Linked DNA regions of Homo sapiens. The protein of the gene in region 1 interacts with the protein of each later gene in a pairwise test. Each region holds a gene or a part of one and is shown on either strand. Other genes may lie near its edges. The genes, in order: PER2 and TPTEP2-CSNK1E.

Region 1 (3,802 bases):
GTTGCTGCCCAGACTCCCGTAGCCACTGGAGCCGCTGTGGGGGACGGGCTGGGGAGACAGCAGACAGCGCTACAGACACAGCCAGGGCTGCTGAGCTATGCATGTGGCCCCCTGCCAACACACCCTGTTTCGCAGAGAGGATGGCGACCCGCCTAAGGCTACATGGCAGAGACCAGGGGAGCTGAGGTTTGAACCCCAGGGTCAGCTCCAGAGGTAGACTCCTGGCCTCCAGCCGCGGTGCCCCGACCCAGACATGCAGTCACCGAGGAGACGGCACCAAAGGAATGTGTCCAACCCGCTCATCAACGCATGGCTGCAGCCAGCCACGCCTCTGTGGATGGGTTTAAAACAAACAAGATGCGATGACAGCTTCACTCCACAGTCTCCGGGAACTGACAGGCAGGCGCCTACTCAGGTGTGGGGTTGACTGCAGTGGGCCTGATTTTTTTTAGGGACCTTGAGTACAATGTCCCTCCCTTAAGTCCCACTGCTCTGGATTAGAATGAGCCCCCGCACCACTGAGAGGTCACTCTGGAACTATGCAGCCTGTGTCAGAGCACGGGGTCTGCACACGTCCTTCAGCTACTCACTCAGGGCTGCAGTTCAGACAAGGTCGAATGCAAGGCTGGAGAGAGCCAAGGGTACTATGGACTGTCTCGGACTAGCACAGTCTATGCCCAAACTGTCCCCTGGGGGATGTTCAGAGAATGACAGATGAAGCTGTCTGAGTGGGTGTGCCAGGACCAGGGTTCAGAGCCTATGTCCTCTGCAGGGGGCTCTCAGGCTGCTACCTGGGAGGAGGACATGCAGGCACCACACCCACCTGCAGCAGGAGCCGGTGGATCTGCTCTGTGAGCTCCTGAATGCTGGGGTGCAGGGCCTTCTCCTCTGTGCAGGGGTGGGCTGCAAACACGTCCTCATTCAAAGGGCCCCTGCGTGGTTTTAATTCATCTTGTTAGATGGGGCCCCACAGGAGGACCTCTCTGGCGTGACTGTATAGCCACTACATGCTGCCTGCCTGGGTGGGCCCTCTGCCTCTCCCCTGCAGCCCCCCAGGCTGCTGCCTGTCCACTCCCTACTCTGCTTGAATGAGGTCCCTCCCACTTGGGGGCAGAGGACAGGTCACCCCTGCCTAGCAGTCTGGGGCTCCAGATTGGTGGCAGGAAGCAAGGTTTCGGTCTTGGCCTCTCAGCCCCTCCCTATGCCATCTGTTGCTGGGAGGTGAGGACAGCCCGAGACCCCCGCCCAAGACCCCTGAGCCACCTCGGGCCCTTGGAGCACTCACACCCTGACTTTGTGCCTCCCAATGATGAAGGAGATTTTCCTGCTCCATGGGTTGATGAAGCTGGACCAGCTGGTGTCCAACGTGATGTACTCTCCGTTCCGGGCGCGAAACCGAATGGGAGAATAGTCGAAAGGCTGCCCGCCTGACTGCAGGACTAGGAGAGCAAAAGCCAGCATTCAGGGGAAAAGGGGAGCAAACAGGATTTATAGTAGAGAGAGACAAGTCAAGAGTCACTCAGGCCCAGGATCATTTGCAAACTGTAGGGGTATGAACACTTCTTCAAAGCCACTGCTTTCAACCTCCTGTTTTTGCTGTAGATTACCAGGAGGCTGTTTCCAGCAGGAGCTGTTTCATCCCATGTTTCACCTCTGCTAGTGTCACTTGCATCTATGAGGGCTGGGCTTGGTGAGGACATGCACTGTGCACTCCCCTGGCCTGGTGAGAACCTTCCTAGCCACAGATGAACTGGTCTCCCCTCCTCCCATGCGCCACTGAAGCCAACAGTAAACATAAGATGCTACGGACTCAGGCCACGGACTGAGAAACAACTGGCCACAAAGGAACTCACATGAGTTTACCCCTCTCTCTCGACTCCACTGGGCACTGCAGTGCCAGGAGGGAGGCGGCGAGGCGGGCGTCTACCACCTGCTTGTCCTTAGCTGATCTGACCTGTCAGAGCTAGACTGGTCCCAAGAAGCAGCCCCAAGGACACAGGAACTTCCGCCAAACACTTCAGGATGTACCATGAAAAGGGGACCTACTCTTTTTGTGGATGGCCAGCATCAAGGGCCTGTCACTAGGGTGGAGCTGCACGAGCACTGGGGTTTCAATCAGGTCCTGAGGTAGGTAGCCCAGGAGAGGGACCGCCCTGGAAGGCAAGCAGACACACGCTAGGATTGGCATCCAAACAGATGAGGAGATTGTCACTAAGAACCATCTTATTCCCTGGAAAGAGAAGATACACTCCAAACCCCACCCCCTCCCCCACCCCCGGAGATCAAAAGTTGGACTAACAGAACCAGCTAGACTTTTAATCAATAGCAAACGAAGGTTCACTGTCCAGGACGCTGAAGGAGGCTCCCTCTGCTGGGGCCTGAGTGCTTCAGCTCTGCGTTTCACCTCCCAAGAGATAAGTCATGATCATGCTTTTGTTTTCTTCCTTCCAGCATCTTTTTCTTTTTCAGTGTCATTCATTAGTTTGGCCACATGTGACCTGGCATGGATTTTTGCTTAACAAGTTTTGCCTGGGCCTCGGAAAACCCTTTGTATGTGCTTCTTTTCCAGCCTGGTCTCGTGTGACTTTGGCCTCAGCATCCAGTTGGTTTACTGTGGCTTCTTTGGAGTCTCGGTGGCTGGCTGGGCCTCTGCCCTTTGAGCTCATGCCTCCTCCCAGAGCTGTGGCTTTGCTCCATTGCAGGACGGAGCTGAACTTCAGCAGCACCTTCTGCTTCTGTTTGTGTCCAGCGCCCTCTGCCGGCTCCACCGACCATTTCTTCTCCCGATCTGCCTCTTAACACTTGTTGCATCCAAACCAATGTTTCCTCAAACTCTGCTGCTTGTGTAGAAGGATTTTCCCTGTGAATCTTTAGACCATGGTGCAGAACTTTCTCAAGGGCCTGGCGTTATTCTTTGATTTCCTCCTTCTTGTCTGAGGCTCTCTCTTCAGGCCTCATGTTTTCCTTTGGACAGGATATACAGAATGTTCCTGGCATCCGTCCCATCAAGGCCTTGCTGAAGGAGGAAGAAGAGGAAGGAAGAGGAGAGGAGTGGGGGAACAGGAAGGAAAAAGAGGGGGAGGAGGAAGAGGAGGGAGCAGAAAGGGGGTGGAGGGTGAAAAGAAGGAGGGGAGGAGGAGGGGGAGCCCTGGCTGTCCTTGGGCTTTGTGAGCCAGGCCACACACAAGGCTTCATCAAGGAGAGCTTGCAGGCTGTGGCCCATCATGCCAGGTGAACCTGTCTGCCAACCTCCCTGCACAGGGCTGAGCTGGACACCAAGTTGGCATGGGAGTGGGTTAGAGACAGTTCTCAGATCTCTGAAGGAAGAAAAGTCTCCAGAGGCTGCTTTACATATACGGCCCCAGGCCCTGCCCTCCAAGATCCTGGTTCCACAGGGCAGGGTGGTGTCCAGAAGCCTGCATCTGCAAACTGGCTCTGCCCCAGGCAGCCCCGCGGACACACCTGAGCCACCTGGAGCTGGAAGTGACGGATCCCTTTTTACCCATAGAGCCTCCCCAGGAAGCTGTGTGGCCCTGACTCCAAGGATGGGGGCCTGTGTCCCTGGGCCAAGAGTAGAGGAGGGAGAGGTCTTGATCCTCCAGCTTCTAGGTGACCTGGTTCATTTTAGGAACCCAGCACACTGGTGCTTCTTGGTCCACTTCCTGTGGTATCTTCTGAGGTCACTTTTCGGTGACTACTGCCAGTGGCCCACACATTTTTTTTCTTTCTATTTTTTTGAGACAGGGTCTTTTGCTGTGACCTAGGCTGGAGTGCAGTGGTGCAATCATAGCTCACCGTAGCC
Region 2 (4,510 bases), on another chromosome or scaffold:
CTGCCTTGTAACTACTGACAACTGTATTTTAAATAACTTACGGCCTCTTGAATTTAAATATAACCGATTAAAAATGGCAGCAACATCAGGGTTAAGAAACAAAATGAAACACTATTAGTCTCCAGAATATTGAACAAAACAATATCTAAAATAAATATGACTTCTCAGAAGGAAAAAAGTTATCTACCATTAAGGACATACCTTAAAAGTTCTTAGCACACATTAAGTAAGCACAAACTAGTGGCTTGCCTGTTATATTTTCAGACAAAAAGCAATGAGGTTATTCCTCTGCACTTGTCACTGCAGACACATAAAGGCTTTTAGAAACTACATCTATTACTCATTGTCTAAGTATCATAAAACTTAGCATTTTAAGTCTTGTTTGATATCAATCAAGAAAGAACATCCACTTCAGGGGAAAGAAGTACAGTAAAATAAGAACATTGTAAATGTCCCTCTTGACATATACAAAAGAGAAGGTAAAAGGCCTCCTAAGACCCCTACCTAGTGGCCAGGCCTGGACGGCAGCTGTTGCTACCTCACCTTTTCTTTTGTTGAGCTTAATCTCATGTCAAGTCATTCAACCAACTCAAAAGCGATGAAGACATTATTGAATCAATCTGAACTAAATCAGACCTAGGCTTCTTAAAACATACAGCTTAATGCTTCCAAACGATCTAGAAAACTAAGAAACCTAGCTACGCTGTAGGACACACTTTCATATGCGTCCGTGTGAAGAGACCACCAAACAGGCTTTGTGTGAGCAACATGGCTGTTTATTTCACCTGGGTGCAGGCGGGCTGAGTCCGAAAAGAGTCAGCAAAGGGAGATGGGGTGGGGCCATTTTATAGGATTTGGGAAGGTAATGGAAAATTACAGTCAAAGGGGGTTGTTCTCTGGTGGGCAGGGGTGGATCTCACAAAGTACATTCTCAAGGGTGGGGAGAATTACAAACAACCTTCTTAAGGGTTGGGGTCACGGCACCAAATTTCATACACGTCCGTGTGAAGAGACCACCAAACAAGCTTTGTGTGAGCAATGGCCTGGCCTGGGCTCAGAGGCCTGACACACACAGTGGCCAATTATACAGGACCCCCAAACTGGCCAGTGGACCACTGCAACCGCCATTTACTTTCTCCGCTGCAAGCACCATAGGCTGATTCAGGAAGATAAACTGAGGCTCAAGGAATTTCGAAGTGGAACAATACACCAAAGCCTTAAACCTGAAATGACTATCCTTTTCTGGGGGGTGGGGGGGAAAGAAAAAGAAAAAAAAGTTTCTGGGGCTCTCAGGGTGGCCCAGATGCCAGGGTCCCAGAAGTGGCCTTTTCTAGCTCCTGTAACTAAACCTGGCGGAAAACTCCCCGCCTGCTCACCCCATCCGCCCAAGAATGCGCCTTCCCGTCTTCGGTGGCCCTACCCAGAATCCCAAAATGTGGATTCCAACCCAGGCCCTGAACGTCTTCTCAAATCCCCGGGACTTACGTTGCGGCGCGCGCCCCGCTGTCGGGTCTTGCCCCTCGGGCGGTACCGCCCAGGCAGCCCTAAATCCAGCCTCCCAGGCCCCCAGCAGCGCCCTCCGCCCCTCCACCATCCCGTCCGGCTCGCAGTCGGGGCCAAATCGAGAGACAAGAGGGCTGTGCCTGAAACTGAGCGGTTTCACCACTTGGCACCTCCTGGCAGAAACTTCCCTTTAAAAAAAGAAAAGAAAAAAAAAAAAAGCAGCAGCACTTTTGGGCTAGCATTTCAATCCTTCCTGCCCTTTAGAGTTCCCAGTTCTGCTTCCAGCTGCCTTTGGGTGTTCCACTACAATTGAGTTGTAAAGATATTCTTTAAGTGTTTATAGAACATTAAGACTTAAGAAAAATCTTTAAAATTAGAGGAGGGAAAAAAAAGCCACCTTATCGCACACATCCAGGAAACGCAGCCCCGTGCATCCCTGCTCAGGGATAAGCAGGCGCCCCAGGACTCCCGGGGACAGATTTTTGGGCACCCGAGGGAGTCACCCGGCGCACCTCGGGGTCCGCGGAGAGGCCCAGCCCCTCCCGCGGTCCCTTAGACGCGCCCTCCGCCTGGCCCGTGTGGACCGTCCCGGCCATTGTTTACGGGGGAAGCCTGTCCCGACGCATTGTTTTGGCCATTTCCAACTTCCCCCGGCCCTTCCCGGGGTATCGCGGGGGACCCTACGCCAACGTCCCCCCTCCGCCCGCGCCCCAAGGGCCGACTGGGCAAATTGGGAGACCCGCCCCGCGGGGCGACCCAACTTTTCGGAACAGCCCCCCACCGCCCACCCCCGCAGACCCCCGGACCCCCGCTCCCGGCGGAGATTCAGGGAACCCCGCACCCCAAGCCCTTCTGAATCGTGCGGCGTGAGTGTGACGGCCAAGAGCGGATGCAGCCCGGGATCGCCCGCACCTTCCCGCCAGCGGAAGCGCAGGAGCCGGCTGGGGAGGGGGCGCCCTAGAAAGAGCAGCTAGAAAGCTGAGACGGGGAACTGAGGTCATCCTGGGGGGGGACAAGACAACGAGAGCCGGGCGCCTCGGGGGCGGCGCGGGAGCCTCCGCAGGACCAGGCGGGCGCCCCGGCTGGCGCGGGCGGGGGGCGCCCCCCTTTACCTGTGGCTCCGGCCCCTCGGCCATTTCCTCGCGCGGCGGCTGCCGGGACTGAGCTGACTCCACTCGGGCCGGCCGGGTTTGAAAGAGGAGGAGCGGGCGCGGAGGGGAGGGGGCGGGGAGGGCGGAGGGAGGGAGGCCTCGCGCAGTTTTCTCGGCCTTTTGTGCGGACACCTCCCGGATTCCGCGCCCGCACCCGGCCCCCCAAAAGACACGGGGAGCCGCAAGCGAGGGGTGCAGCCATCTGCCGAGGCGCCTAGTGCCTTCGCGCCTCCAAGACCCCCAACAAAAAAGGAGCGTCCCGCACCCCCACCCCCGCCCGGAGGATTTAGGGGCCGGGCTCACCTCGGGCGCGGGGCTAAGTGCAGGCGCGGGGGGGGTCCCTAGAGCCGCCAGGGCGCGGCGCGTCCGGCGCTGGGGGACTGTTGGGTCAGAAAGTGTTCAGGGAGCAGCTGCTGCGCCCTCCCTCGGCCCGCCGCTCGGAGACGCCCCGCCCCGCCCCACCCCGCCCCCGCGCCCACGTGACTAGCATAGGCCCGCCCCCGCTCCGCCCCCCGCCACAGACTCCGCCTCCGGGACGCGAGCGAGCGGCGAGCGCGCGCACTCCCAGTTATCGCTCGGCGACTCCCGCGCACGCACGCGCCGTGCCACCCTCCCCGCGCCCCCCGCCCCATACCCCTACTCCCGCCATCCGATTTAACGTGGCGGGCGAGCGCCGCGGCGGTAGCCGTGACAGGTACCCGGCGGGGGGGGCGGGGGGGGCCGCGAGGGTGTGCGCAGGCGCAGACCCGGGTCCCGTCCCCGCCGCCCCCTCCTCTGCAAGGTGTGCCCGGGCGAGGGGAGGGGCCCGCGGCCCGAACTCCTGGGTCACCCCGAATTACAAACAAAACCTTAACGCCGTTGCTCGCGGGTTAGAAGGCAGCTGTGCGCGAAAAACACCTCAGATTTTCTTCAAGCGTGAGGAAGGTCGAGAAGATAAAGTTTTTAAATGAGTATCTTCAGAAAGCTATTTAATTGTTCTGATTTTTTTTTTTCTGAAAGGACTGGGCTTGCGCTATTCTAACTTGAGATTTCTAAACTTAGACTAGGTTCCAAGAATCTACTTGGTTTTGATAGAAATCCATTTGGAGGAAACCGGGGACAAAAAAAAACAAAAAACCGCTACCCTTTCCCCTCCTCCCTACGCACAACTCATTTAAATCGTTTCCCAACTGTTTTTTTTTTCTTACTGAAAAAAAGGACAAAAAAAATCCTGATTCCTAAGGCCTGTGATATTTCCCCATTTTAAGTAAGCCTCGAGGAACCACAGACATAACAAACATATCCACAATTTTTCTACCCCAAAATGCAAACTAATGCAAATGTGAAATGGATCTATGCAAGTCGCTACCAACAAAATAGCCAAATATTTGTTTTTTTACTGGCCTTCGGCATATCCAAAATGAAAAAACTTTAAAACACATCAAGAAAAGCATTTAAAATATCTATTTCCTAAATCAAAAGAAAGAACGCACTACAGAAACGATCCGGAGCTGGTGAGCAATGCAATCTTAATAAATAGGAAAAGGAATTTGAGAAGACAGCTCAGCAAAGGGGAAGAATTTGCCAAGTGTCATGTTTTGCTGTCATTTTATATATAACTACTAACCCCCCATATGGTCTGGTTAGTCTTTTTTAAAAAGGAAGCCAATCAATTACTCACAATTAATTAGCAGTGCCGGTAGATTCTTAGGCCAGCACTAAAAAACTAAATTGGGTGAATTTTTTTTCACTCAAGTCCACTGATATTGATCACTTTTAGTATTAGGAGTCCTTTTCTGACAAAAGATGAATACCTATCTTTAAAATATATTTTTTAATCTTATTGTCACATTCTAAAACACAGTCCAAAAACACTT

Evidence for each region.
Region 2: the proteins of PER2 (region 1) and TPTEP2-CSNK1E interact in a two-hybrid assay, tested with the Homo sapiens proteins (one large-scale study listed by BioGRID).

What each region holds. Positions count from the first base shown.
Region 1 is NC_000002.12:238,260,906-238,264,707, forward strand, and holds part of PER2 (period circadian protein homolog 2), read right to left. Parts: intron 2,154-3,802; coding exon 2,047-2,153; intron 1,440-2,046; coding exon 1,286-1,439; intron 933-1,285; coding exon 824-932; intron 49-823; coding exon 1-48. UniProt on the Homo sapiens protein: Transcriptional repressor which forms a core component of the circadian clock.
Region 2 is NC_000022.11:38,395,823-38,400,332, forward strand, and holds the start of TPTEP2-CSNK1E (casein kinase I), read right to left. Parts: upstream 3,094-4,510; 5' UTR 2,616-3,093; intron 1-2,615.